5 linked regions of the Homo sapiens genome follow. The protein of the gene in region 2 interacts with the protein of the main gene of each other region in a pairwise test. Each region holds a gene or a part of one and is shown on either strand. Other genes may lie near its edges. The genes, in order: TPM4, JRK, PDZD4, PRICKLE1 and CCDC136.

Region 1 (6,122 bases), on a different chromosome or scaffold from region 2:
GAAAGGTGAAGTTATTATTTTGCCTAGGGTCACATGGCTATTAAGTGATCAAGTCATGACTGAAGCCTGACTCTGGAGTGCAGTGGGGCAATCTTGGCTCAATGCAACCTCCGCCCTCCAGGCTCAAGTGATCCTCTCACCTCAGCCTCCCAAGTAGCTAGGATCACAAGCATGCACCACCATGCCCAGCTAGTTTTTGTATTTTTGGTAGAGACGGGATCTCTCCATGTTGCCCAGGCTGGTCTCGAACTTCTGAGCTCAAGCGATCCTCCCGCCTCGGCTTCCTAAAGTGCTGGAATTACAGGCATGAGCCACCGTGCTGGACCTACAGCTGTTTTAAATGTCGCCTCCTTGGTGACACCGTTCACAACCTACCAAGGTCCCTCTATTGTATTCCCAAAGCACTCTGTGACTTTGTCAATCCCTTCCACTAGACTCGACTCTGAGCTCTTCAAGAGCAGATGCCAGGCTGGGCACAGTGGCTCACACCTGTAATCCCAGCCCTTTGGGAGGCCGAGGTGGGTGGATCACTTGAGGTCAGGAGTTTGAGACGAGCCTGGCCAACATGGTGAAACTCCGTCTCTACTAAAAATACAAAAATTAGCTGGGCGTGGTGTGTGCGCCTGTATTCCCAGTTACTCAGGAGGCTGAGGCAGGAGAATTGCTTGAGCCTAGGAGGTGGAGGTTGCAGTGAGCTGAGATCGTGCCTCTGCACTCCAGCCTGGGCGACAGAGCAAGGCTCCATCTCAAAACAAAACAAAACAAAGCAGCTGAGGTATTAGTGGTGTTACATCTATCCCCCTGGCCCGGGGCAGTGTCTGGCATACACACACCAACTGGATTCATTCCTTACACATCCTAGTATCAGATATATGCCAGGGCTGGCACATATGGGAGACAGAGGCAGGTGGATCACTCGAGGCCAGGAGTTTGAGATCAGCCTGGGCAACATGGTGAAACACCATCTCTACTAAAAAAAAAAAAAAAAAAAAAATTACACACACACACTACAGATATATGCCAGGCACAATGCTAGTACTAGGGACACAACTCTGAACAAGATGACATGGTTCCTGTCCTTACAACTTACAATCTAGCAAGGAAGGCATGCAATTAATGGAGTAACTATAATAAATGTAAGAAATCATAATGCCAGCAAAAGTATAGACAGGGCTACACAGCAGAGAAATACCTAACCTAGATGAGAAATCAGAGAAGGACTCTCAGAAGTGATGTTTAAGCAGAAGCTCAAAGGATGAACAGGAGGCCAGGCTCGGCGGCCTCCCAAAGTAATCCCAGCACTTTGGGAGGCCAAGGTGGGAGGATCACTTGAGGCCAGGAGTTCAAGACCAGCCTGGCCAACATGATGAAACCTTGTCTCTACCAAAAACTAGAAAAATTAGCCAGGCACGGTGGCCCACGCCTGTAATCCCAGCACTTTGGGAGGCTAAGGTGGGAGGATCACTTGAGGCCAGGAGTTTAAGACCAGCCTAGGCAACATAGACTGTGCTCTATAAAAAAAAAAAAAAAAATACAGTTTTGGAGTAGTGGCACATGCCTGCAAGTCCTAGCTACTCAGGAAGCTGAGGTGATAGGATTATTTAAGCCCAGGAGTTTGGGGCCTGCAGTGAGCTATGATCACGCCACTACACTTCCAGCCTAAGCAACAGAGCAAGATCTCATCTCTAGGCCAGGTGCAGTGGGTCATGCCTGTAATCCCAGCACTTTGGGAGGGCGAGGCGGGCAGATCACTTGAGATCAGGAGTTCGAGACCAGCCTGGCCAATGTGGTGAAACCTCATCTCTACCAAAAATTATAAAAATTAGCGTGTAATCGGGAGGCTGAGGTGGGAGAATTGCTTGAACTTGGGAGTCGAAGGCTGCAGTAAGCTGAGATCACGCCACTTCACTCCAGCCTGGGTGACAGAGTGAGACCCTGTCTCAAAAAAAAAGAAAAGAAAAAAAAAGGCTGAATAGGGGTTTATCAAGCAAAAGGAAAGCCACACCCAGTTGAGTGAATAGCAGGTGGTGGCTGAGGTGGGAGGATCGCTTGAGCCTGGGAGTTCAAGGCTGCAATGAACTATGATCATGCCACTGAATTCCAGCCTGGGCAACAGAGCGAAGCTCTGTCTCAAAAAAAAAAAAAAAAAAGTGGGGGGTGGAGGTGATGGGAGAACAAAGAATGTCTGTGAAACTGCAAAAGCAGGAGCAAGAATGAGGAAGAGGCTGGGAAATTCAGTGGGGTTCGGCCGTGGAAGTGTGTCCTTTGTTCCCGACGTAGCTGCCACGTAGCAACTGCTTTGGGTGCTGTTTCAAACTAAAAAGCCCAATTCCACCTCTGATCATTGCTATACCTTTGAGATGGTATTTCTGGAGGAACCAGGGGAATCAGGTGAGAGGCAGGCTCTGTATTTATTTATACAACTATGCTCAGATCTCGCTAAGAAGAGCCTCATGTTCTATCTCTATCCTCCTGAGATGGAGATCAAAGATGGTGCTCAGACCCCATGGAAGAGGACTCAAGAGTGTGCAGGAGAAATCCAGCTCTTTCTGTAGGGGAAAAACCCTGGCTGCCAGGCACCAACGCTACTGTTAAATAAAGGGCAGATTCCCCATAACCTGACAGGCTCCTGCATCCCTCGGGAGAAGAAAAGAACAAAGTCCAGCAAGCCACCCTCCAGCTCAAGCCAACCACCTACCTTTTCAGATGCAGCCTCCAGAGATTTCAGATTGTTAGTAACATTCTTGAGTTCTTCTTCCAGGTCACCACATTTTCTGCACAAAGACAAAGGATTTTTGTGTCTTATCTTCCCTTACAGCCGGCAATAATAGCAATCGCCCCAACAATAAATTTTCCAAAGGAGAAACCTACACAGCTCCCCCGGTGGGGGGCAGAAGGAATGTGGGGAGAAAATGTTAATGGATTTTTCTGCAGTGTGATACTATGGGCTTATCAAAGGCTTATCATACCAGGCAGAGGCGAGGTGCGCCCGAAGAGTATTTGGAGGGCTTGGAAAACACTCCTGGTCTTTTGCCAAGGGTAAGGCTGCAAGGACTTGTGAAATCTATGATTGATGAGGCCGACTCCGGAAGGTGTAAGAATGGGACTGAGGGCAGAAGGCGGGCAGAGAGCAATGGGAGTTTGCAGGGGACACTCCGGGAAGGAAGCCCGGAGTGGATTTGTGAAACCAGATCTCTCTCAGCACTCCCGGATGCTCTGTGGGGCTGAATTCCTCACCCGGGGCCAAGAGGACAGGTGTTTTGTTTTTCGGTGCTTGCTTGTGGGATTCTGGTTAAGCTTCTCACCTTCCCGCCAGGAATGTGTCACGGCCAAACACTGACAGGAGCAAAAGCATTTACATACTGACCGGGGGAGCCTGCCTTCTGGAGCAGGTCAGTGTTCTGTTAAGATGGCACAGCCCCCTGAGATATCCTCTCTGGGAAAATGGGACTTCTGGGCTTCCCTGCTGCCTCCTGTCTCACTCCTATTTCCTCATATCTTTGCAGAAAGGGTCAACACGTGGGCAGTGCTTCCCATGGCAGTAAGAACAAGTCACCACCTCTTTGTCACAGAAGCCAAGAGAAAAGATGAGCCATGAGCCCCTGACGCCCGTCCACTTGAGCAGAGACCCCGGTCAGAGCCAATTCCCAACACAGCCAGCTCCTTCCCACTCCGCCCCAGGAATCGAGCCAGCCTCGCTCAGTCCTGTTCTGCCACTCACAGTTCAGACACCTCCGCACGCTCCTCTGCCCTCTCCAGCTCACCCTCCAGGATGACCAGCTTACGAGCTACCTGCAGAGACAGAAAGGCCCAGCTGAGCCCGATCCCCACCAGCCGTGTCCTCTCCCATCCACTGCAGACAGCCCCCAATGATGCCCCACCCAGACCCCTAGACCAGCTGCAACATGGGTTTTTCTGGTGTTTCTTTTTTTTGCAGGGGGACGGAGTCTCCCTCTGTTGCCCAGGCTGGAGTGCAGTGGCACAGTCTCGGCTCACTGCAACCTCCACCTCCTGGGTTCAAGCGATTCTCCTGCCTCAGCCTTCCAAGTAGCTGGGACTACAGGCGCGTGCCACCACGCCCAGCTAATTTTTGTATTTTCAGTCGAGATGGGGTTTCACCGTAGTGGCCAGGCTGGTCTCGAATTCCTGACCTCCTGATCCACCTACCTCGGCCTCCCAGAGTGCTGGGATTATAGGCATGAGCCACCACACCTGGCCTCTTTTTTATTTTTTTATTCTTTTGAGACAGAGTCTCGCTCCATCACCCAGGCTGAAATGCAGTGGCTCAACCTTGACTCACTGCAACCTCTGCCTCCTGGGTTCAAGTGAATCTCCTGTCTCAGCCTTCCAAATAGCTGGGCTTACAGGCATGCACGACCATGCCCGGCTAATTTTTGTATTTTTTGTAGAGACAGGGTTTCACCACGTTGGCCAGGCTGGTCATGAACTCCTGACCTCAGGTGATCTGCCTGCCTTGGCCTCCCAAAGTGCTGGGATTACCGGCGTGAGCCACCATGCCCAGCCCTTTTATGTTTTTGACAGAGGGTCTTGCTCTGTCTCCAAGGCTGGAGTGCAGTGGCGTGGTCAGAGCTCACTGCAGCCTTGACTTCCCAGGTTCAAGCGATCCTCCTGCCTCAGCCTCCCAAGTAGCTGGGACTACAGGTGCATGCCACCACACCCAGCTAATTATTATTATTATTATTTTTAGAAATGGGGTCTCACTATGTTGCCCAGGCTGGTCTCAAACTCCTGGCCTCAGGTGATCCTCCCGCCTCGGTCGAAGTGCTGGGGTTACAGGTACGAGCCACCGCGCCTGGCCTTTTGCTGGCGCTTCAACTGAAAGAGCCATCCTGGGGCCTGGAGGAAATCCTGATTCTCTTCCTCAAGCCTGAGGAGCGAGGCAGACAAGAGGCGGGAGGGAAGAGCCGAGCCATCGAGGGAGGCAAAGGAGGGCCTGAGCTTGCATGGTCTGAAACTCCATGGCTTGGGACCACAATCCTCCATTTTTGCCCAACTGTGCCAAAACTCCCAGCTAACGACACAAGTGAGCTGATCATTCGGTTTTCCCATTACGTTAGACAAGCGTCCGCAGCACTTTCTGGCATCGTGGGAGATAGTTTCCTAGCCAAGTGGTTGTCTCTGGACAAACATATGTTCACGCAGGAGGACAGCTGACCTAACCGAGAGCTTCCTTTCGTTGGCCCCGGTGTCCTCCCTATCTCAGCAGATGCATTTCCTCCCACTTCCTGCTGCTGCGCCATCTGCCAGCCCCACTCACCTCCTCGTATTTGCGGTCAGCCTCTTCCGCAATGTGCTTGGCCTCTTTGAGCTGCATCTCCTGAATCTCCATCTTCTCCTCATCCTTCATGGCCCGGTTTTCTATCACCTTCATTCCTCTGCAAGGAGCAATCTCATCAGGACGGCCGTTCACTCACACCCCTCCACCCACCTCTCATCTATCTTTTCTTTCAGATGGAGTCTCGCTCTGTCATCCAGGCTGGAGTGCAGTGGCACGATCTCAGCTCACTGCAACCTCCACCTCCCGGGTTCAAGCGATTCTCCTGCCTCAGCCTCCTGAGTAGCTGGAATTACAGGCACCCGTCACCATGTCTGGCTAATTGCGTGAGACACCACCCCTAGTCCCATCTCTCATCTAAATGAGTCTCTGAATCTACTGAGCACTGTAACACACTGCAAAGATGGAACTCTGTGCACACATTTCCTTCATCTTGGTTTTTTTTTTTTTTTTTGAGATGGAGTCTCGCTCTGTCACCCAGGCTGGAGTGCAGTAGTGTGATCTCAGCTCACTGCAGCCTCCATCTCCTGGGTTCAAGCAATTCTCCTGTCTCAGCCTCCAGCATAGCCGGGACTATAGGCATGCACCACCGTGACCGGCTAACTTTTATATTTTTAGTAGAGAGGGGGTTTCGCCATGTTGGCCAGGCTGGTCTGGAACTCCTGACCTCAAGTGATCTGCCCGCCTTGACCTCCCAGAGTGCTGGGATTACAGGTGTGAGCCACCGCGCCCAGCCTCCCTTCATCTTTACTACCAGGCACTTTTCTAAGTGCCTTCACTTTCACAACTGCCCTATGGAGCAGGTAAATTATCCACATTTTACAAA
Region 2 (6,122 bases):
CAAGGTTGAAGCCCTCCAGGAGGGCCCTGGTGGCTGTGGGGCCACAGCTCAGTCTCCCTTGCCCTGCTCATCCACAGCAGGTGACAACTGATGGCTTCTCTGCCCTGCCCTGGCCACTGGCCCTGTTTCTCCCCACACCCTGGAGTGGCATGGTCCTGTGCCCCGACCCCACCTGAGGCAGGAGGGCATGTGCAGACACTCAAGAGCCCTTCCAGGAGTGGGTCGCCCACGGGTGTGGCTCGGGTGCCCAGGACGGTCTGTGCCCGAGGTTCCTGTCAATACAGGTTTTATTTTATCACTTGCCGTGTCATCCGAAAGTGAGGAAATGTTTTGGAAGGGTCCACCCTAGCCTAGAACAAGCCAGAGCCGCACCCTGGCTGGAATGGGGGCCAGGCTGAGCCGATCTGGTCTCGTGTTCGCTGGCTGATCATTGCAGTATCAGAGGGTGGAGATGTCAGTCTGTCCACGTGGAGAGAAGTTGCCCTCCAGGCCGACAGGAGGCCATGCCCACCGCCCCTGGACAGGCTTCGTCTCAGAAGGCTCTATCTGCTGGGCTGGCGGCCATCCCCGTGTTGGGTGGACCCCGAGCACGGTTGCCTGAGGTCCGATGGCCCGAGAGCTGGGACTCAGTTCTTGGCCTGCTAGCGGCTGAACAGGCCGCACATCTCACTTCAGTTGTGGCCTCATTCAGCAGAATGACTCTGGAACCATCCTCTGTTACCCGCAGATCCTGTCCCATGGGCTCTGGCCCCAAGATGTTGGGGGGCCCCACGGAGAGTTGACTTGGTAGAGTTCCTTTCTGGGAAGAAAGTAGGAGTGGCTGACCAGGCCCTGCTCATCACCCGGATAGAGGACACGGACCCTGTGTGGTATTTTGGCATTTTGGCTCAGAGTCCAATGTACCATGTTGCCCAGAATTTCATACTTATGGCCTTTACATGAATACGTCTTGATCAGACATTCAGAGATTAGTCTTAGGTTTGCACGTAAGTCACTGAAAACAGTAAAACAGGCTGCTTAGATTTCTAGCAGTATGTGTGCTCTTATCCCCAGCTGTTAGCACGTTAGTAATACTTTTGGGGAGGAGTTGTCTGTCCTGGTCAGTTTTCACAGAGGCGGTTGTAAGAGGATGTGGTTATTTTCTCCATGTCTGTAGTTGCTTTGCGGCATCTCCATTTCACGGGCAACACTCACTGCCTGCAGCTGAGATTCCAGAACGCCCTGTGTCCACAGTGATTAGCCTCGTCTTTCAGCGAGCATAAAATAGGTGCATTGTCCTTTTCTTTTCTTGAGGCAGGGTCTCACTCTGTTGACCAGGCTGGAGTGAAGTGGTGTGATCCCAGCTCACTGCAGCCTCGACCTCCCTGGCTTGAGTGATCCTCCCGCCCCAGCCTCCTGAGTAGCTGGGACTAGAGGCACGCACCACCGCGCCTTTTTATTTTTTTTGTAGAGACAGGGTCTCACTGTGTTGCCCAGGCTGGTCTTGAACTCTTGGCCTCAAGCGATCCTCCTTCCTCATCCTTCTAAAGTGCTGGGATTACAGGTGTGAGCCACAGCACTCGGCCTAAATAGGTTTTTCTTGCTATGTTATTTTCAGTGCTTTGCCCTTGAATTCTTTTCCTCTCTTAAATTCATATCATTTGGCCGAGTCAGCACGTAGTTTGCATTCCAGCGTCTGCTGTTGATTCCACTGAAACCTCTGTTCTCATGAAGGAGAGGATTTGGCTCGCTGTGGTTTCTCGTACTTTCACATCTCTGTAGATACAGGGGCAAAAGTCATTGCTGACAGAGCCCTATCTATGTCCTGGAAGTGTGTGTTTCTTGCTTTGAATGCATGTGTGAAGATTATAAAAGCCAAATAGTTTTTAAAGATCTCGGTGCTGAACGACAGTCCCAGTTCCCATTTGTGTCCCATTGTCTTTGTGGTGTCACCCGCACTGTTTGCTTCATTGTCTGGGGAACTTCTGCACATCATGTACTTTGTGCCATTTCTGGGCTCACGTGTCACTCCTAATAGAGCCTCTTAACCAAGACTGCTGGATTGCAGCTGCTTGAGGCAACACAGGAGGTTAGAACATGTCCCGAGGGCTCTGAAACAGTAGGACATCCTGGGTGGGTGGAGCTGGGGAGGGCATGGGCAGGCCAGCTGGCCGAGCTCCTGGCTGGCTCTCCTGAGTCCTCTGGACATGGCTTGTCCCTGTCAGACTGTAGCTCTTCAGGACCTGAGCTCTTCCCGTTCTTGATCTGCTCTTGTGCTGACTGTGCTGGGCTGATGGGTAGGCGCTTGTCCCCAGTGAGTGGCTGTGTCCTCAGGGTGCCCCTCTTCCAGACCAACTGCAGCAAGGCCTGGAGCCTGACTCTAGGTGCAGCCCTTGTGGCTGGAATCCCTTGTGCCACCCAGGGGACTCGGGCCCTGCTCCTCCTGCAGCCCCTCCTCACCTGGGCTCGCTGCTGGAGTGAGGTTTTTAGGGAGCCCAGAGCGTACTCATCTCTGAGCTGCTGGGCCCAGCTGCCTGGTGCATACCTCTTGCCTCGGTCCTGTCCCCCAGAACGCTTTATGGAGACTGCCGTGTCCTCCGAGCACTTTGTTTTCACTTCCTGACCCGTCTCAGAAGCTCAAGTGGTTGAATGTTTTAGCCTCAGAATCTTTTTCCCCAAGCCCTCTCAGGTGGAGCCCCGCTGTACCAGACACCACAGCACAGCTCTGTGAGGCTGTGTCTCTTCACTCTGTTTCTGGGGCTGCTGAGGCCCCTGGGAAGCCCTGGAGCTTGCCAGAGCAGAGCGAGAAAGTCTCTGGTCCTGTTTAAATGCCTCCGCGTTTTATCTGTGAGCACCAGGCTGGAGCCACTCCCTGTCTTCTCACAGTGCCCCTGCAAGTTGCAGCCTCAGTTTTCCAGTGGCTCGTGGGGTAGCAGGTGCTGCGTCATATGGTTTGGGACCTCTGTGGCTGCTTCCAGCCTGCTAATAGAACCTCTTTCCACCACTGCCTTCATCTTTGGGGTGGCACCCCTGAGTGCTCAGGCCTGAGGGCGCTCCTGTGTCCTCACTCGGGACAGGCAGCCTCCACTCTGGGAGCTCCCATCCCTCGGGATGCCCAGGAGAGGCCATACTTTCAGGGTGGCATGGTGAATTCAGGGGTTAGGATGGGTAGGTGGTCTTTCAGCCCCTTCTACGTTGGGGTTGGTTTACAGAACACCTGTCCTGCCTGTGCCAGCCTGGCCTTCTGCGAGCACCCCAGGCACGCTGTCCTGGAAGTTGTCTGTCTCCTGCATAGGAGGGTCTAGAGCAGACCTTGCCCTGGGCCTGTCTGTGCGTGACTTCCATATGCTTCATTCGTGCTCAGCCATGGCTGAGCATGCGATGGAGAGCACCTGGACTGCCCCTGACGTCGCAGGCCACTGTTCTTATCCAGTGGGCCAAGTGATTGATTGCTAGTGGTGGAGTTGATTGGAAGAAAGGAAGTCGCAGCCCCTGCCCACGGCTTCCCCAGCTCGCTGGGGTTGGAGGACTGTCATCAGTTGTCCCCAGTTAAAGTCCATTTGGAGGAGGTTCAGGGTCCCAGTGGCTGGATGTGCTTGTGGAGGGACACGGTTTGAGGCAGGGGTTTGCAGAAGGTGTAGACTGCATCCATTCTTGGGAGGCTGTGGCACAGGGCAGCGACAACTTGGGACAAATCAAGACCCGTCCACACTGCACCTCAGGGACCTCACCTCACGCCCCACATAAATGTGCTTATTGGGGATCCGGGTGTGGTGGCTTCTGCCTGAAATCCCAGTACTCTGGAAGGCCACGGCAGGAGGATCACTTTAGTTCAGGAGTTTGAAACCAGCCTGGGCAACATAGGGAGACCCCATCTCTACAGAAAGTAAAAGAAAATGAGCCAGGTGTGGTGGCATGTGCCTGTAACCCCAGCTACTCAGGAGGCCGAGGCGGGAGGATCCCCAAGCCCAGGAGTTTGAGGCTGCAGTGAGTTATGGCCTCTGCACTCCAGCCTGGGTGACAGAGTGAGAGACCTAATCTCTAAAAACAAAAAATAACAAAATGTGCTTTGGGGTCAGGTGTGGAGATCAGGGTCGGGGAGGTCATGAGGTAGGTAGGGGTCAGGATGTGGACAGTCATGGGCTGGTGGGTGTGGCAGCCGTGAGGGGTGGGTGGTGGCCTGGGAGGCAGGGCCTGGGCAGGGCTTCTGCACTTCTGCTGCTTACCCAGCCCCCTCTGGGTTCGAGGACTCTCCTTGACAAGGGCTGAGCTCTCGGGCACTGCGTTGGACTCAGCTGCCTACTGGGAGGCTGGGGAGAATGGACCTGTGAGACCTTGTTTGTCCTCTTCCCTGCCCAGCTCTTGTAGACCCCAGGCCTGGCTGTCCGCAGGGCCAGGAGCTGCAGCCATGGCAGCCACCAGCCTCCCACATGAGCCCCAGCTCCCAGCCCCACACGCCCACTCCTTTGCCCATGTGGTGTCAGCTCTGGCCTCTGCTTCTACACATGGACCCTCAGACCTTGCACATCTGTTGTTTCCCTTGCAGGGCAGTGATGATGACATGAAATGAGGTGGGGTCACTCCTGTTTAGGGATGAGACTGGGGCCCAGGGAGGGGCAGGTGTGAAGTTGCTGAGGGCAGAGGGAGACCCAGGGCTACCTGCTCCTAATGACCAGCCTCACGTTCTCCACTGCTCACTCCCTGCTGTTCACCAGCTGCATGACCTTGAGCAGTGCACTCAACTGTAAACAGAGGTGAAAACACTCCTTTACCAACTGTTTTAGGGGCCACTCTTGTTTGAGGCCTTGAACCTCCTTTCAGTTCCGTGGTGGTCCTGAGCCTCTGAATCTGGGTATGGCCCCTGCTGGGTCCTGGTCTCTTAGGCAGCACGATGGCCTCCCTGCTCAAGGCCCTGCACCCAGGGGCAGATTGTGGGAGGCCCACTGGCCATGGCTGGGCCCTATCGCAGAGAGCCTGTCAGCACGGCCATTTCCACACCCAGGCTGGCTGGGAAGCAAGCTACGAGGTGCTCAAAGGCCCTCTATGTCTGCAGGTAGCCCCGTCCCACACAGGCGAGGATCGTTGGGCCTCCTTAGTAGCCAAAGGAACTGAGGTCCAGAGCAGGGAATGTGTTGCCCAGTGTCAGCATGGTCTGCTCTGGGGTCAGGCGTCTTGCCCTGGTCCTAAGCCACCCCAAGCCAAGGCATGTCCCTGGGCCCATTTCCTCTCTCGAGGTCTTGGGTTCCCTATTTCTGATGTGTGTGAAAGGAAGGCCTGTCCTCTGGGGTGACCATGAGGCTCAGTGGGAGGAGCTGCCAGGCTTGAGCTGGGACTTGGCACCTGGCCAGCCTTTTTTCTATTTCATTGTACCTTGATGGGCTGTCAGTTCTGAAGAGAAAAAATACACTAGGAATCCATTCTTCCTCCACCATTCTCCCTGGCAGAGGGAAGTGACTACACCCCTATGGTGTGGACATACTGACGCTCCTCCATGAAGCAGCAAAGTTCTGTTGTTTCAGGAGACTGTGGGCCTTGAGGATGTGGTAGTGACCTCACCAGAGGAGTTGGCAATTCCTAAGTGCTGCCTGGAGGCCTCTACAGAGACATAATGTTGGAGAACTTCTGCCACATGGCAGTGCTGGGTAAGACCCCTCTGTCCCCACCAGTGCCCTTGAGGTTATGGGTGTTGGTAGGTCTGTGGCCTCCATCTCCATGACGATGGTGTTAAGGACTGCATGTTTGTGTCCCCCCCCAAAGTTTATATGTTGAAACCCTGACCCCCAGGAGGGTGGTATTAGGAGGTGGGGCCTTTGGGAGGTGACTAGGCTTAGGTGAGATCGTGAGGGTGGGGCTCGCCGATGAGATCGAGTCCTTATAAGAAAAGGAAGGAACTAGAGCGAGGTCACTTTGTGCTGTGTGAGCATACAAGAAAACTGCCATCTTCAAGCTGGGTGCAGTGGCTCACGCCTGTAATCCCAGCACTGGAAGGCCAAGGCATTAGGATTGCATGAGTCCAGGAGTTCGAGACCAGCCTAGGCATGATAAGACCTTATTGCTAAAAAAAAAAAAAAAGGAAATAAAATAGAAAATTGCCATCTGCAAATGAGAAAGCCTTCAGCCGACACCAGACTGCCAGTGCCTTT
Region 3 (6,122 bases), on a different chromosome or scaffold from region 2:
AGGAGAAAGGAGAAGCCGCAGGCTCACTACATTCACCCACTCAGTGACCCAGCAAAGTCCCCATTCATGTTTCCCCAGCTCGGGATTTTGAAAATTGTCCGCCCACAAGCATGTGGGAACATCTGCAGATTCCCCACACCTGCTCTCGGGGTTTCTACACACACATGTGCAGAAGCATTTGAAAGCAAGATGCCATCAGTCCCATTCTCCGTGGAACCACAACACCCTTAGCACGGAATTCCGCACTCATACAATGGGCCAGCCTCACATCTCCCCAGCTGTCCCGCTAACACCCTTATAGCTTTTTTTAAAAATCTAGGATTTGAGGCTGGGCACAATGGCTCATGCCTGTAATCCCAGCACTTTGGGAGGCTGAGGCGGGCAGATCACAAGGTCAGGAGTTCGAGACCAGCATGGCCAATATGGTGAAACCCCGTCTCTACTAAAAATACAAAAATTAGCCGGGCGTGGTGGCTTGCACCTGTAGTTCCAGCTACTAGGGAGGCTGAGGCAGGAGAATCACTTGAACCCGGGTGGCGGAGGAGGTTGCAGTGAGCCGAGATCGTGCCACTGCACTCCAGCCTGGGCGACAGAGCAAGACTCCATCTCAAAAAAAAAAAAAAAAAAAAAAAAAGCGAGGCGTGGTGGTGCAGCCTATGGTCCCAGCTACTTGGGAGGCTGAGGCAGGAGAATTGATTGAACCCAGGAAGCAGAGGTTGAAGTGAGCTGAGATCACACCATCACACTCCAGCCTGGGTGACACAGAGAGACTCCATCTCAAAAACAAAACAAACAAACAAAAAATCTAGGATTCAATCAAGAAGCACACATATTACATTCGGTTGTTAGGTCTCTAGTTATTATGTCTCCTCTCTAATCTAGAAAAAAATATATATATTTTTTACTTTAATGGGAATGACTTCTTGGAAGAGACCAGTCCTTATAGAATGCGCCAGAGTCTGAATTTGCCTGATTCATTCCCGCGGTGAGATTCAGGCTGAGCGTTTTGACAAGAGCACCTTGCAGGAGATGCTGTATGTCTCCTCCCCAGCCCTGCATCTGGCGGCTGGCAGGGTCAGGCTGCCCCACTGTTGGGGAGGCTGTTTGATCACATGGTCCAGGTGGCAGCTGCCAGATCTCTCCTCTGTAAAGACGCAGTTTCCCTTCCTGATTCACAGGTAATTTGGGGTAATATTTGGAGACTTTGTGAATATTCTGTCCCCAACGACCTTACATCTAATGGTTTTGGCATCCAGTGATGATTTTTGCCTGAATTAATTACTGCATTGGTGGCTGCAAAATGTCTCCACCAACATGTTAGAATTCTAGCAGGGACAAAGAGGTGACAGGCCCGGCAAGTAGCATGGCTGCCCACGCCCCCAACTGTGGCCTCCTGGGCAAGCCACACCACCCGCTTCCATAACTCTGTGCCCACCCTTTCTGCCTGGGGGCAGGAGAGACAGAAACATGGGAGGGCTTCATCTCAAAGGCCTTTGAGCAGTTAGTCGGGGGAGGGGTGTCTGGGCGTCCATGAGAGACATGTATACCGGTAGGGGTGCCGGTGACAGGGAAGGGGGTCAGTTAGCTGCACATGGCAGGGAAGAACAAGTTATGTCCTGTAAAGCCCTCACGTAGGCAACGACTCCTGGATGTTCTGATTTACCCTCTATGTGTGTTTTTTTACCCTCTATTTGTAAACAATTTTTACCCTCTATTTGTAAAAAAAAAAAACAAAACAAACAAACAAAAAAAACAACACCTCACTTCACCACCCATGTTAATGTGGTTTGGGGCTACCATAGATCTACTCCCGGTCCCTACCCAAGGCCCTGGCTACTCACAGCCAGTGGGATCCACATCACCTGGGAGCTTGTGAGAAGTGCAGAATCCCAGGCCCCATGCTAGTGGCTCAGTCAGAAAGTGCACCTTAACAAGGACTTCGGGTGGAGGGTGGCGCTGTACTGACTCAGAGCGCGCCCTGGAGGAACCAGGGCAGACCTCAACGAAGGCCTTCTGCATGAGGGCATCTTTCTTTCCCCTCACTTCTCCTTCCCTCCCCGAAGCCCAGGGTCTGCTGAAGTCTCATCAATCCACCTGGCCCCCACCTTTCCGGGAGAGCGGCGGCCTCTCAGACACCTCCATAGTCCTGGCTCAGAAGCAGAAAGGAGGCCGGGCGCGGTGGCTCACGCCTGTAATCCCAGCATTTTGGGAGGCCGAGGCAGGCGGATCACTAGAGGTCAGGAGTTTGAGACCAGACTGGCCAACATGATGAAACCCTGTCTTTACTAAAAATACAAAAATTAGCCAGGCGTGGTGGCAGGTGCCTGTAATCCCAGCTACTCGGGAGGCTGAGGCAGAATTGCTTGAACCCAGGAGGCGGAGGCTGCAATGAGCCGAGATCACAACACTGCACTCTAGCCTGGGTGACAGAGCAAGACTCTGTCTCAAAAAAAAAAAAAAAAAAAACACACAGGAAAAGAGGGGTGTCCCACACCTTGCACAGGAAAAGCCAACCACTTCCTGAAGCCATTCTCAAGATCAACCTTCGGGTACATATTCACAGCTTTCCAGGCACGTGGCCCAGCAACTAAACCCATCCTCCCACCCACCTCAGGCTAACCTGACTGGCTAAGGGCACAGTTCACATCTAGCAACAATCAAAGCAATATTCCCTCTGCAGCGTTTTACAATCAAAGCAATATTCCCTCTGCAGCGTTTTTCATTCTCAATGCTCCAAGCAGCCATGAGGACAGGCAGAATGCACTGAAAGGGAGGACATCTTGTCCAGCCCCAGGCTGCTCAGCCTCGCCTCCTCCGGCCCAACTCCTGTGCAAAATGACCACATATGCCTCCGCTTTGTTCCCTGTCCATCTGTTTTTTCTTTCTCTCTCTCTCTCTCTCTCCCTCCCTCCCTCTCTCTCTCTCTCTTTCTCTCTGTCTTTCTTTCTTTTTTTTCCAGACACAGTCTGGCTCCATTGCCCAGGCTAGAGTGCAGTGGTACAATCACGGCTCACAGAAGCCTCCAACTCCTGGGTTCAAGCAATCCTCCCACTCAGCCTCCCCAGAAGCTGGGACTAGAGGCGCATGCCACTACGCCTGAGCAATTTTTTATTTTTGTAGAGACAAGGTCTCAATATGTTGCCCAGGCTGTCCTAACTAATATTGTACTACATCACACTTCTTCAAAACTTGGAGGTCCCTTTCCTGAGAGAAATTCTCAGAATAATATTGGACATTCTTCTGTCACTGGGCATTAACTGTGACATACCCAGATGTAAGGCCTTCTCCATATAATTTCCTTTTTCATTATTTTTTATTTAATTAATTTATTTATTTGAGACAGGGTCTCGTTCTGTCACCTAGGCTGGAGTGCAGTGGCTTGATCTTGGCTCATGCAACCTCCACCTGCTGAGTTCAAGCAGTTCTCCTGCCTCAGCCTCCCGAGTAGCTGGGACTACAGGTGCATGATGCCCAGCTAATATATATATATATATTTTTTTTTGAGATGGAGTTTCGAGCCCAAGCTGGAGTGCAATGGCGTGATCTCAGCTCACCACAACCTCCACCTCCCGGGTTCAAGCAATTCTCCTGCCTCAGCCTCCCGCGTACCTGGGATTACAGGCATGTGTCACCATGCCCGGCTAATTTTGTATTTTTAGTAGAGATGGGGTTTCTCTATGTTGGTCAGGCTGGTCTCGAACTCCTGACCTGAGGTGATCCGCCCACCTCAGCCTCCCAAAGTGCTGGGATTACAGGCGTGAGCCACCACGCCTGGTCAATTTTTTGTATTTTTAGTATAGATGGGGTTTCACCATGCTGGCCAGGCTGGTCTCGAACTCCTGACCTCATGATCCACCCGCCTCGGCCTCCCAAAGTGCTGGGATTACAGGCGTGAGCCACCGCACCCAGCCAATTTCCACTTCTTAATGACCAACTGAATGGCCCGAGGGCAGCAACTCCCTCCTCCACCCAGTGAGATCCCGGGGGACACACCATCTGTTTTCCTTGTCACAATGGCCCTCGGACGCAAGCACTCTTCACTGCCATTTCACAGTTGAGGAAACTGAGTCACTGAGCCAGTGGGCCATGCAGCGACTTGCCCCTGGCCACACAGCTGTCAGTTGGTGGCTGCCTCCATTCCTATCTCCACACTGCACTGCCTTCTCTGGCAGGGCCCCTGAAGTAGAAGGAAGGAAAGGACACCTTTCTCCCCAGGATGCGTGCATGTGGCCATGGAGTTCCTGTTCTAAAGCTTTGGTGAGGTCTGTTGCTGGGTGGTAACCTGCACATCTTCAGTGTGCAAAGGGCAGGTGTTCATATGTCATACATGAACCTGGGGAACCATCACCACCGTCAGGACAGTGGCCATTTCTATCTTCCCCAAAAGTGTCCTCATGCCCCTCTGCCCATCCCTGCAACCACGAATCTGCTCTCTGGCACTATCGAATTTCATTTCAGCAGACTGGACAGTCCTCAGGAACCCCGAGATGAGAGGGGAAAGGGCATTCTACAATCTTGGGACAATGACACAAAACAGGATGACCTGGTCCAGAAGATGGCAGTCAGAATTCAGTGTCCAGCCCTCTGTTCTTCCACTCCACAAGGACTTTCTCAGAGCCTGCTTCTTCCCCAGTCAGCTTCTGCGGCAGAACCACTGAGTTGACTGAGAGTCCAGCTTTCCCCTGGAAGGGTGGAGGCCAGCGTGGATGTGCTGGCAGCATCTGGTGCTGGTGAGGCGGGGAGGCAGAGTGCCCATGCCAGACCCAAATCCCTGCTCACAGGAAGCCCCCATGCAAGCAGGAGGGAGCCAGAGAAGCCACCTGGCTTGGTGGGTGGGAGAGCAGTTTGGAGGAAGACGTCGCTGAAGAGGGGACACTGGCTGCCAGCCACGCTCCCGCACTCAAGCAGTACTTTCTCTCCCCCGCAGTTGCCTACATGTTGGCGATGGTCTCCCCCTTACAAAAAGGGGAGCCTGGGGCCAGGCGTGGTGGCTCACTCCTGTAATCCCAGCACTTTGGGAGGCCGGTGTGGGTGGATCACCTGAGGTCGGGAGTTCAAGACCAGCCTGACCAACATGGAGAAACCCCATCTCTACTAAAAATACAAAATTAGCCAGGCATGGTGGCGCATGCCTGTAATCCCAGCTACTCGGGAGGCTGAGGCAGGAGAATCGCTTGAACCCTGGAGGCGGAGGTTTTGGTGAGCCCAGATCGTACCATTGCACTCCAGCCTGGGCAACAAGAGCGAAACTCTGTCTCAAACAACAACAACAACAACAACAAAAGGGGAGTCTGGGGGAGGGGCAAGGCCCTGTCTGCAGTGTCTCCCTGCTGAATGCCACGCACCCAGGATGGCTGCCAGCACCATGGGGGCTCACATGCAGGTGCTTTAGGCAAGAATGCCTGGGAGATCACCAGAAGGGCTGGCCAGCTGTCCTTTGGCCTCCCTCGATGTGGACAGAGGGGAGATGACAGGCGGTCCTGACCCACTCCCCCTGTAAAGCCTGAGTAGGATGGGCGGGAGACCAGTCCTAAGTACCAGGGGTTTATCCCCTGACCATCTCCGGCGTGCTCGGATGCTAGCAAGCACATCATGGTGTCAGAGAGGGGGTGCCAAGGCCAAGACAAGTTCAGCAGAGTGTGGACCACGATGAGATATATGACAAGGGGGCCTGGTGGCAGTGGAGGGACATGGGCTGCAGAAAAGGCTCCGGAGCTGGGGACATGCTGTTTCCTGCCTTCCATTCTGGGCAACCAGCCTGCTTCCTTTTCCTAACTCAACACGCAGTAATCCTCCATTTTCAGGGGAGGTCCCAGATTTTCCAAACTAGGAGGACATGATTGGAATATAGGAATGGGGCTGAGGTTCCGACATGACACACGAAAGTGCCTGTGACAACCCACATCCGTGGAATAAAGGAACCATGTGGTCATCTCACTAGCCACAGAAGCAGCACTGCACAATCCAATGCCTCTCATGATAAAAACACACTAGGAATAGAATGGGAACTTCCTTACCCTGATAAAGGACAGCTATGAAAAAGCCACAGCTAACTTTATACCCCCTAGTGAAAGACTGGAAGCTTCTTTACCTTTAAGATGAGGAACAAGGGAAAGACATTC
Region 4 (6,122 bases), on a different chromosome or scaffold from region 2:
GCAGGGGGAAAAAACCCACTCGCTGAAACAGCTTCTACTTGTTTTTACCATATATTCCAGGGGTTATGTGTGTGGAGGGGTTGTTTTTACATTTATACAGTTTACATTGCTTGACCCATAAGTAACACTTGTAAGATTAATAGGGCCATAGTTTTAAAGAGTACTTACATAGCCCCACCATGCATACAGAGCCTTTTTTAATATTGGAAAAAAAAATCAAAAAAAGTTGAATTTTCCATCACTAGGCAATGTAAATTTGACCATCTACATTTATAAACCCTGACTAAAATATAAGCAATCAGTTCATCCATAAATTCTGGTTCCCTGGCAAATCTAGCACTGCAGCGTAACAAACGGCTTACAATTCAGGGATATAAAAATATCAGCTTTAAAATCTGAACTGTACAGTATATACATTAATATTTGCACCGTTAAATTAGGAATACACTTAAGTCTATGAAATACTAAGTTATAAATAGCAATGTTTTTTGTTTTTTTTTTTCAATCTGTAGCTGGCGCTGATACAATACAATGTTTACCTGGCCAAAGAGGGTTCGAGGGGACAAGCTGGCCTCACAATAAGATGCACAGTGTTAGCTAGGTCATCGTGACAGGCATGCCTCACACCAAGACGGACTATCAAGACCTGAGCCGACCTGACTTACATAAATGACAAACACTAGTGCTTTACAAAGGTGGCTGGAGTTCTCCATCTTCTAAAATCAACATCCAATCCCCTTCAGTCAGCATCTTCAGTATTCCCTTGAGGACTGGAAAACCAAAGCAGCTACGTCCATCTGTAACGCACCCGCACCGGACAGGCACGAGATGTCACGTCCACCTGGCACCATCCAAAGAGGGTAAATTGGAGAAATCACACCTTTCAAATGTTAATCTGACACTGTAAACAGCAGTTGAGTTCTCATTTACATGGGCAAAGAAAGCACTTTAAACTATTTTCACAACTTTCCTACGGAAGAAAAGGAAACGATTCAGACGGTTAATGGCTAAGTTTTAAACAAATGCTCTGCATCACTACTTGGTTAAGAAATAATACAATTTTTGCCCTTGTGTCCCTTTTTCTTCTTGGATTTTGTTGTCCTCTGACCAAACTGAGGGGTGGGAAGTGCAGATGGTGGACTAGAAAGGTCATCTGTATAGTAGGCAAATCTCTGTGGCCGGGGTTGAGGGATTGGTTGTCCAAGAAAATATCCTTCTTCTTCCGAGTCGGAAGAGGAGGAGGAGGAAGAACACCAGGAATCATCATCCTCGCCGTAGAGTCCCAGAAACCGATTCATTCCTGGGTTCTGCAGGCCATAATCGGAAGTGGCATGGGCGTACTGTCCGTAGAGATCAGCATTCTGGATGTATGCTTGGATCTCCCGGGCACTTTTATTCTGTATAAATTTCTCATAGTTATCGGGGGTGTACAGCCGCAGTCTGTCCTTGGGAGAGTATTTTCTTTCTGTAACAAGATTCAGGGCATTGTCGGAGCGGGACTTTCTACTTCTCCGGCGGCGGTGGTGATGAGACCTGGATCCCCTCTCTTCAAAATTGTAGACGCGTCTCCGAGTCCTTTCACTCATCGGAGGCTGCCGGATTTCAATGTCATAGTTCCCATTGTCAATGACATCATCAGAAAACTTGACCTGCTGGGGTCTGGATTGAGACTTGGACCTTCTGAGCACTGGCAGATGTACTGGCTTCTCTTCAGGCAGGATTTTCTCTGGACACAACTCTGAACTTAGACTCTTTAAGGACTCTGCACTCCTGTGCAGCATGGAAGAGTTCAAAGTTCCCATATTGCTCATCTTCTCACAATCTTCTGTTTCCATCTCCTCAAAATTTTGCAGAGAATACAATGATGGCCTTGGCTTGTTTTCTCCATCCACCGAAGCCCCTAGAAGAGAGGCCAAAACAAGATGTGCTTCTCAATCATCCTAATATTCGACAGTACTTAAAAGTAAGCTACTGAAAGGAAATATTTCAAAGAAAATTTCCAATCTCAATATTTGATTAAAACCCATAGGGAAAGCCAACATGTATCTATGCCAATTGAGAAGTGGTATAAATGCAGTTATTGTTATAAGGGGTGGGCACAGCCTTTTTTGTTTTGTTTTTTTGTTTTGTTTTGAGACAGAGTTTTGCTCTAGTTGCCCGGGCTGGAGTGCAATGGCGCTATCTCGGCACACCACAATCTCCACCTCCCAGGTTCAAGCAGTTTTCCTGCCTCAACCTCCTGAGTAGCTGGGATTACAGGCATGTGCCACCACACCTGGCTACTTTTGTATTTTTAGTAAAGACGGGGTTTCTCCATGTTGGTCAGGCTGGTCTCGAACTCCCGACCTCAGGTGATCCACCCACCTCGGCCTCCCACAGTGCTGGGTTTACAGGTATGAGCCACTGCACCTGGCCTGGGGCACAGGTTCTCTTATAAGCCTGGAGTCAAAGATTAGTTAAGTAGTTACGGCACATGGCATGAGCAGCAAAACTTTAAGAGCTCTTCACAGCAGCCTGTTCATTCATTAACATAAGATGTAGAAGCTTCTGCTCCTCAATTCATTAAAGCCACACTGCTTCATTTGGAGATCTTTCACATCAGTCCCTCCTTGGTCTCCATCATGAGCTAGTCTTCCTCATCTTATACTGAGGCTAGTGGTCAGCAAACTACAGCTCAACAGCTTGTTTGTGTATCAAGTTTTATTGGAACAGCCACACCTATTTGTTTACATATTGTTTATAGCTGCTTTCTACAGTGGCAGAGCTAAGTAGTCACACCAGAGACCGTAGGCCTAAAAAGGGCTATCGAGCCCATTATAGAAAAGGTTTGCTCAACCCCTGACCTAGATCTTCATCCAGTCTTTTCTGCCTTCAACGTGTAAAATATGCCACTTCCAGATTAATCTTCTATTGAAACATTTAACAAAACAGATATTGATCTCTTTTGATATAATAGGACCCAGGCATGTTAAGATAAATACATATAGCCCTATAGACAAAGTGATACTGTTGTCAACTGGAGACTACATAACTTCGTACTTATTTTTTTTTGAGATGGAGTCTCGCTCTGTCGCCCAGGCTGGAGTGCAGTGGCACCATCTCAGCTCACTGCAAGCTCCGCCTCCTGGGTTCATGCCATTCTCTCACCTCAGCCTCCCGAGTAGCTGGGATTACAGGCATGCGCCACCACGCCTGGCTAATTTGTTGTATTTTTAGTAGAGACGGGGTTTCACTGTGTTAGCCAGGATGGTCTTGATCTCCTGACCTCGTGATCTGCCCGCCTCGGTCTCCCAAAGTGCTGGGATTACAGGTGTGAGCCACCGCGCCCGGCCCTATATAACTTCATACTTTTTAAAGGGGGCCTATTTTTCAGCTTATTATTGTCAAGGAATGTCAGCCCCTAACACTTAAATGTGTACCAAGTTATGTTTAATTCTTTTATTTATTTTTTTTGAGACAGAGTCTTGCTCTGTCACTCAGGCTGGAGTGCAGTGGTATGATCTCGGCTCACTGCAACCTCCGCCTCCCAGGTTCAAGTGATTCTCCTGCCTCAGCCTCCCGAGTAGCTGAAATTACAGGCACATGCCACCATGCCTGGCTAATTTTCGTATTTTTAGTAGAGACAGGGTTTTGCTATGTTGGCCAGGCTGGTCTCGAACTCCTGACTTCAGGTGATCCACCTGCTTTGGGCCTCCCAAAGTGCTGGGACTGCAGGTGTGAGCTACCACACCTGGCCAAATTATGTCTATTTCTGATATTAAATTTAAAACTCCTAGCACTGGGCCTGGCAGACAAAAGGTGCTTACTCAGTCTCACCCACCATTCTTCCTCAACTCCCCTTTATTGCCGGCCTTATCTTTGACAAGTCCACAGAAGCCGGGGGGGTAGCTTTGCCGTACCCTTCCTTGTCACTGCAGTGTCTGGCACAAGTTATTCCTGGCAGGAAGCAGCTACTAAGCCTTTCCTGTCTACATTACAGAAGCATTACCTTCATCAAAGGGCTGGATGTCAGTAGTTTGACTATAAAACTAGCCATGCAACAGCAACATTTCTATAATCCAAAGACTTGTTGCAAATAATTTGCATAATGTCCTAGGTTCTAGGCCTAATCTTGCCTTTAGAACCTATGTAATGTTTGGCATTTAGCCTTTTGGTAATTCAAGTTTCCTCATTTGTGAAATGCAATCATATCATCCACTCTATATAGCTCAGGGTCATTTTAAAGATAAAATGTGGATAACTGGTATGACTGTGCTTTGAAAACATTAAAGTAGGCCAGGGGCAGTGGCTCACACCTGTAATCCCAGCACTTTGGGAGGCCAAGGCAGGTGGATCACCTGAGGTCAGGAGTTTGAGACCAGCCTGTCTCACAAAAATTAGCTGGGCGTGGTGGCAGGCGCCTATAATCCCAGCTACTCATGAGGCTGAGGCAGGAGAATCGCTTAAACTCAGGAACCTGAGAGGCAGAGGTTATAGTGAGCTGATATCGCGTCATTGCACCCCAACCTGGGTGACAAGAGTGAAACTCCATCTCAAAACAAAACAAAAAACTAGGAAAAAAAAGAAAACATTACAGTAATATTTTAGAATCTAAATAAAAAGTATTCAGCTGTTTTTGAGCTACTGTCACAGGGAAATTCAGGAAGATGTTTAAAAAAAAAAATGAGCTTGTGGCCAGGCGTGGTGGCTCATGCCTATAATCCCAGCACTTTGGGAGGCTGAGGCGGGTGGATCACCTGAGGTCAGGAGTTCGAGACCAGCCTGGCCAATATGGCGAAACCCCATCTCTACTAAAAATACAAAAATTAGCCAGGTATGGTGGTATGCACCTGTAATCCCAGCTACTGGGGAGGCAGAGGCAGAAGAATCACTTGAACCCGGGAGATGGAGGTTGCAGTGAGGTGAGACTGCGCCATTGCACTCCATCCTGGGCGACAAGGGCGAAACTCCACCTCAAAAAAAAAAAGAGCTTGTAAAGTGTGTGGGCCAATTTTGGTATCTTAGAATACATACAGAATAATTCAAGCGTACAATATCTTTCAGACACAATCCAGTTGTACACTCCTTCCTCCAATCAATTTCCTTCTCTTCAAAACAGGGTAATAAAACCTATCCCTAAAGACTGCACTGTAAATATATTTTATGCACATGCACTCACCTCACACATGTGTTTGTTTTGCTAGTGTTTGGTATTTAAGTGAGGTTCCTTCCTTCCCTTGATCCATGGTTTTGAATAACACACAACTCCTACTCATGCTGAATTGCAATTTTTTTTTTTTTTGAGATGGAGTCTTGCTCTGTTGCCCAGGCTGGAGTGCAGTGGCGCAATCTTGGCTCACTACAACCTCTGCCTCCTGGGTTCAAGCAATTCTCTTGCCTCAGCCTCCCGAGTAGCTGGGATCACAGGCCCATGCCCAGCTAATTTTTGTATTTTTAGTAGAGCCGCGGTTTCGCCATGTTGCCTGGGCTGGTCTCGAACTCCTGACCTCAAATGATCTGCCCACCTCAGCCTCCCATAGTGCTGGAATTATAGGCATGAGCCACTGCGCCTGGCTTGAATTGCAATTTTTTGAATACACTTTTTAGTAGCTCCTTTTTTCAAATACCCCATAATCCCTAGATTACGTACCTGTGATATTGGACAATGCCAAAGAATCCATCGAATCCCGAACACTTTGCTCTGGTTTCAGGTCTGACAGACACTCCAGGGAATCTTCATACCACTGTGTTTCATCATGATTATACCCTGAAGCCCCATGGTCCAGTTCCAATTCCTGAAGCCTTCTACTGCTTGCAGGGCCTGGGTGGCTGCCATAAGCAGAATCGCCCAGTCCATCTTGTGACTGTGCCCAGTACATATCAGACTGGTATTTTTTACTTGCAAGGCTCTGGTTATTTTGCTTTAACTCGGTCTTACTTTTAACCATGTTATCAGATATCCAGTGCTCACTGGCTCGAATATCCATCTCATTGGGCTGTGGCTGAAAGAGGCTTTTATCACCAAACTTGAGGAGGAGCTGCGTCATATAATCTTCATGATCAGCCCATTCTTCAGGGTCTTCTGGAGTTTCCTGCTCTACTCTGCCTTTCCAAAATTCTTCACTGGCAAAACTTGTTCCTTG
Region 5 (6,122 bases), on a different chromosome or scaffold from region 2:
TTCAACATGCTTCACATTTCATTTAATTCCCAAAATAGCTCTGTAAGGTTTTTTTCTTCTTTAAATAAACTTTGAATTTTAGAATAGTTTTAGATTTACAAAAAAGTTGCAAAGGTAGTACGGAGTTTCCTGGGAGGGTTCTCACCCAATTTCCCTAATTGTCAACATCTTACATTACCATGATATACCTGTCATGACTAAGGAATCAAATATTGATACATTACTATTAACTAAACTCCATAGTTTACTTGGATTTCTCTACATTTTCCCTAAGGTCCTTTTCCTGTTTCAGGATCCCATCTAGCTATAAGGTTTTATTAACCAATTTTGATTTCATATCCTGGATATAGAAACAGGCTCAGAGAAAGACCATAACCAGACCTCCTACGTTCATCCTGCTAATTAGTGGAGCTGAGATACTGAACTCAGGTCTGTTTGACTCCAGCCCAAGCCTTCCCACTGTGCCAACCTTCTTCTCCCAGCACCATTTAATCTAAAGGCTCTTCTGAGAGGCTTGATACAGCTGGAAAAACTTGCAGTTCTTTGATTCCTTGTTGATTGCCTCTGCTTGACCTGGCCAAATATAGGACCTCCATTATACTCAGATTATAAATCTAGCCTCAGAATAAAGGCAAACTCTCTGATGTCATGAATCCTAGCAACTAGCTGGGAGACTCACTGTCTGAAAGCAGGGCTCTAGGCTTTTGGGTACCTCATGTATCACTCAGAATAACTTTTCTTCTCTAGCTGTCTTTTGTTCCGATTTGTTGCCCCCCAAAGCTTCTATTTTGAGGAGAGCTAATGGAACCTAAGAATTAGCATCCCTGCACCTGGAAGCAGGGCCAGAGGCCCCCTATAAAGCATTCCAGGCAAAGCACCATGATGCCAGGGCAGCAGGAAGAGTTTCCCAAGGTGACAGGTCCCTCTTTGCCCATCCTAGAGCTGGAAATTTTCCCAGGAAGGGTTTTCCCATAGTCAAATCAACAAAGACCCAATGACTCTCTGAAGAATTCCCAGGGTACCTCTCCATGGTGCTATTTCTTACACCACCATGGACTGGTTATGTAACATCTGGGTAGGTTTTTCCCCTTTACTGTCTTTTTAAAATTTTTATTTAAATTTTTCTTTTAGAAAGAGATAGGGTCTCACTTCATTGCCCAGGCTGCTCATGAATGCCTGGGCTCGAGTGATCCTCCCATCTTGGCCTCCCAAAGTTCTGGGATTACAGGCATGAGCCATCACGCCTGGACCCCTACAGTCTTGAATTCAACCTGGAGGTTTTTTCTAGAGATTCCCAATTCATGATCTAACACCACCTTCTACCATTTTCCTATATATTATCTCCTTTCCTCTGCTTGACTTTACTGACCCACTTGATGGCTCTCATACCTTGTAACCCAGAGTAATCTGAGAGACCTAAACTACCGGATGGTTCAGAGCTCTTCATTTCCATTTCTGCACGGAGGGAGGCGATCTCCATCTCATAATCTCCCCGAATGCGTTCCATGTCTTCAAGTTCATTCTGCATCCGGCAGAGATCCTCCTGCAGGGATGCTATGTCACTCTCATGTTCAGTTGCGGAATCCTCTGCTGCTTGCCGCAGACTCTGGATCTCAGCCTGGGCCAAATGCAATTCCTGTTCTATTTCCTTAAGTTCGCTTTCTTTCTCATGCTCTAACAGGGAAATCTCCTCCCGTAGAGAACGCAGCTCACCTGCAAAGTCCAAAGGTTGAGATGATCAAGAGGGCAGGTGAACTAACCTACCATGTTCTAGAGGCACAAAATTAAAGGGAGACTTATTTCTTGTCTGCAAAGTCCTGAAAACCTTGTCTCTACCCCATCAGAGAAGTGTAGCATCATGCCGGACGGAATAAAAGGAGTACCTAAGAAGGGAAAAGAGAGTGACTCTATGTAGTAAGGTCCAATAGAAAAGTAGATTTTGAGGCCTGGCACCAAAACAATCACTTAGTCTACTGTAAACAAAAAGTATTTCATGCTTCTAAGGAATCACCTGACAGTTAAAGACCTAACTTCATTTATAGTATTTTCTTGATGCCCTGAATCTTTCTAAAAATCCCCTGACTCAAAAAATGTATACAGACTATTTTCACCTATTCATCCTGAGAGCTCAGAAATTACAGAGCCTCAGAGTTCCCATGACCTACCTGTGGTAAGTACTGGACCTAAAACAATGTGCATTTAGAGTTCACAACTCAAATTCAAATATAAGTTCACTGCATAATAACCAAACACGGGATAATAATCTAAGTGTCAGTCGATAAGGGATTGTTTAAATTGATGATAGGCTGGGAGCAGTGGCTCACGCCTATAATCCCAGCACTTTGGGAGGCCAAGGCAGGTGGATCACTTGAGGTCAGGAGTTCAAGACCAGCCTGGCCAACATGGTGAAACCCAGTCTTCGCTAAAAAAAAAAAAAAAAGAAAGCCAGGTGTGGTGGCACGCCCCTGTAATCCCAGCTACTTGGGAGGCTGAGACAGGAGAATCATTTGAGCCCGGGAGGCAGAGGTTGCTGTGAGCCAAGATCGCACCACTGCACTCCAGCCTGGGCAACAGAGTGAGACTCGGTCTCGAAAAATAATAACAATAATAAATAAATAAACTGATGATAGTTAAATAGAATATCATGCAGCCATTTAAAAGAAAGTATCAGATCTATGGTGAAAACAAAGAAGTTTCCATATTAACTGAAGAAAAAGAGCTGTAAAATATATGCTATGATCTAATTTTTGCAAAAAATATTTTATGTATAGTATATAACACACAAATGGACAAACATATAGAAAAAGGCCTGGAAAGATCTATGCCCAAACCATAATGAGTAGTTGTTTCTGAGGTATGGGATAACATGTGGTAAGGTTTTTACTTTACATATCATATCTATCTGTGCTGTTTGGATTTTCAGAACAAGCCTATATTTTCTATTTTTTAATTTACAAAATAATGAGTTAAGAGTTCTCTGTATCTATGGAGCATCTCAGAGTTTCTAGACACATGTACCCATCTGGGATCAGAACGAAAAAGTGGAGAGAGTAAAAGGCACTGACACCAACAGTGAATTTAGGATTTGAGGGCCAGGATTAGAGAATTAATGAGGATTGGGTTGGGAGGGTCAGGATTTTCCCATAAATCCTTTGCAAGGCACATTCTCCCATCCCCTTCCCCCAACTTCTGCTCATTCTACTCACCACTCAGATGTCAACTTTTCTAGCCTGTACCTCCACTTCCTCAAAAAAAAATAAGAGAAGTCCTCTATTAAATGGTCTCATAAAACCTTGTACTTTGCTATATGTGTGTGTGTACTTAAGTCTCCCCTTCACTTGGTTATAAGCTTTATCGAGGCAGAGAGCATATCTGGTTTGCTCACCATTACAGCTCCAGGATCTAGTATTGTGCCTGAAAACGAAGCTCAATAGATATTTGATGTATTCATGCATAAGTAAGGCAGCAGTTCATCTATTCAACAAACTTTTGCTAAGTATCTCTTATGTGTACAGAACTAAACATTTGGGGTTTGGGGGGTTTTCCTTTCTGTTTTTGAGACAGTCTTGTTCTGTTGCCCAGGCTGGAGTGGAGTGGCATGATCATGGCTCACTGCAGCCTTGACTTCCTGGGCTCAAGCAATCCTCCCTCCTCAGCATCCCTAATATCTGAGACTACAGGCATGGGCTACCATGCCCTGCTTTTTTTTTTTTTTTTTTTTTTTTTAATGTAGAGATGGGGGTCTCTTTCTGTTGCCCAGGCTGGTCTCAAACTCCTGGGCTCAGGCGATCCATCTTGGCTTCCCAAAGTGCTGGGATTACAGGCATGAGCCACCACACCTGGCCCTGTTTGGATATTTTTTAAAAATTAGAATAGAATCTAGACTTTCAAAGAAGACAAATTTGGACACGCTTCATAGATAGATGCTGAGTGGTGAGGGCATCTCAGGGGAAGATCTACCCTGCTCCCCTGAGCTCACATGTGGAACTATGGGCATGTCTTTTGCCAATCTTTCCAGTTCTAGAATGATCCTAGCTGTTACGTCTCCTTGATCTATTCAACAACTATTAACTGATCCTTAACTGCGTGCCAAGGCCAAGAATCTCCTGTTAGATTCTCTGACTTCCTATTGGAAGAAAAGTCCGCTCTACCCCCACTACTGAGCAGCACAGTGAGGTCTGTCTAGCTAGGGAGACACAAGAGGAAGCTGGCCATTAGGACAAAGGCCCTAGAGTCTGGGGTGGGTGTTCTGGAGAAACAGACCAACCTCCACCTCCCTAATATGCTTTTGATGTTAGGGTTCAACTCTCTCTTAGGTGCTTCTGGCCCTAAAAAAATGGTATTGTCGGCCAAACACGGTGGCTCACACCTTTAATCCCAGCACTTTGGGAGGCTGAGGCTGGTGGATCACTTGAGATCAGGGGTTGGAGACCAGCCTGGCCAAAATGGCGAAACCCCATCTCTACTAAATATACAAAAATTAGCCGGGTGTGGTGGCTGGCATTTGTAGTCCCAGCTACTCGCGAAGCTGAGGCAGAAGAATTGCTTCAACCCAGGAGGAGGAGGTTGCAGTGGGCCAAGATCTCGCCACTGCACTCCAGCCTGGGTGACAGAGCAAGACTTCGTCTCAAAACAAACAAAAAACTCTACTGAGGAGAGAATCGCTCTGGAACCCTATTTTCGGCCGGGCGCGGTGGCTCACGCCTTTAATCCCAGCACTTTGGGAGGCAGAGGCGGGCGGATCATGAGGTCAGGAGATCGAGACCATCCTGGCTAACACAGTGAAACCCCGCCTCTACTAAAAATACAAAAAATTAGCCGGGTGTGGTGGCGGGCGCCTGTAGTCTCAGCTACTCGGGAGGCTGAGGCAGGAGAATGGCGTGAACCCGGGAGGCGGAGCTTGCAGTGAGCCGAGATCACGCCACTGCACTCCAGCCTGGGCGACACAGCGAGACTCCGTCTCAAAAAAAAAAAAAATAGAACCCTATTTTCCCAGGTAGTTCCTGCCTGCATCTCTGCTTCAATTCTGACTTTTCGCCCGTTTGAATGGAGGAACGTTCCTTCTCCAGGCAAAGGCCTTTTTTTGTACTGGATCTTTTCTTTCATTATACATGATCTAGCATTTCCTACCTTTGAAAAAAGAAAAGAAATAATCTTTTGACCCTATTTCCCTTACTTCTCTGCTTCTCTTCAAAATGACTACTGGAGTTATCGGTACTCACCTTCATCTCCCATTTCCTCTCCAAACCCAATCCAATCGGTGCCTCCATGCACTGAGATGTCTCAGGGTCCTCTCTCTTGCCAAATCCAAGACCATCTCACTTGACTTAGCAACCTGACACAGTGGATCACTGTCTCCTTGAAGCACTTTCTGCTCTGGCTTACAGGGCATGACATGCTCCAGGAGTTCCTCTCACTTTACTCTTTTGTTCATTTCTCCTTCTATACTGGACCTCTAAATACTGGAGTGTCTCTGGGACTGGACCCTTTCTCCTCTTCTGGTGTCTCTCCATGTGACTGCACCATTATTTCCCATGGATTCTAATGCCAATTATATGCTAATGACTCCAAATTTACATCTCCGGCCCTGTTTTCTCCCTGGTTCTGCCTTTATATATCCAACTGCCTCAATATATTCACTTGGATGTCCACAGTTACTTCAAACTCAACAGAGGAAAACATGTTTTAAATGGCTCCCCTAGCCCCAAAACTTACCCCTTGCCAAGTCTTTCCCAATTCAATAAACATCACCACCTTCCATCAATTTTCTCAAGGCAAAGTCATCTTTCATGTCTCTGTTATCCCCTGATCGAATTCATTAGCAAATCCCGAGGGCTTCACCTTCAAAATATATTCTGGGCCGGGCGCGGTGGCTCACGCCTGTAATCCCAGCACTTTGGGAGGCCGAGGCGGGCGGATCACGAGGTCAGGAGATCGAGACCATCCCGGCTAAAACGGTGAAACCCCGTCTCTACTAAAAATACAAAAAATTAGCCGGGCGTAGTGGCGGGCGCCTGTAGTCCCAGCTACTTGGGAGGCTGAGGCAGGAGAATGGCGTGAACCCGGGAGGCGGAGCTTGCAGTGAGCCGAGATCCCGCCACTGCACTCCAGCCTGGGCGACA

Evidence for each region.
Region 1: the proteins of JRK (region 2) and TPM4 interact in binary tests that used the Homo sapiens proteins (3 or more experiments, as listed by UniProt).
Region 3: the proteins of JRK (region 2) and PDZD4 interact in a two-hybrid assay, tested with the Homo sapiens proteins (one large-scale study listed by BioGRID).
Region 4: the proteins of JRK (region 2) and PRICKLE1 interact in binary tests that used the Homo sapiens proteins (3 or more experiments, as listed by UniProt).
Region 5: the proteins of JRK (region 2) and CCDC136 interact in a two-hybrid assay, tested with the Homo sapiens proteins (one large-scale study listed by BioGRID).

Annotation. Positions count from the first base shown.
Region 1 is NC_000019.10:16,085,697-16,091,818, reverse strand, and holds part of TPM4 (tropomyosin alpha-4 chain), read right to left. Parts: intron 5,397-6,122; coding exon 5,279-5,396; intron 3,793-5,278; coding exon 3,722-3,792; intron 2,775-3,721; coding exon 2,699-2,774; intron 1-2,698. UniProt on the Homo sapiens protein: Binds to actin filaments in muscle and non-muscle cells. Plays a central role, in association with the troponin complex, in the calcium dependent regulation of vertebrate striated muscle contraction.
Region 2 is NC_000008.11:142,658,321-142,664,442, reverse strand, and holds part of JRK (jerky protein homolog), read left to right. Parts: coding exon 1-91; 3' UTR 92-5,498; coding exon of another isoform or gene 5,499-5,588; 3' UTR 5,589-6,122. UniProt on the Homo sapiens protein: May bind DNA.
Region 3 is NC_000023.11:153,819,741-153,825,862, forward strand, and holds part of PDZD4 (PDZ domain-containing protein 4), read right to left. Parts: intron 1-6,122.
Region 4 is NC_000012.12:42,458,766-42,464,887, forward strand, and holds part of PRICKLE1 (prickle-like protein 1), read right to left. Parts: coding exon 5,630-6,122; intron 1,901-5,629; coding exon 1,044-1,900; 3' UTR 1-1,043. UniProt on the Homo sapiens protein: Involved in the planar cell polarity pathway that controls convergent extension during gastrulation and neural tube closure.
Region 5 is NC_000007.14:128,796,777-128,802,898, reverse strand, and holds part of CCDC136 (coiled-coil domain-containing protein 136), read right to left. Parts: intron 1,714-6,122; coding exon 1,390-1,713; intron 1-1,389. UniProt on the Homo sapiens protein: May play a role in acrosome formation in spermatogenesis and in fertilization.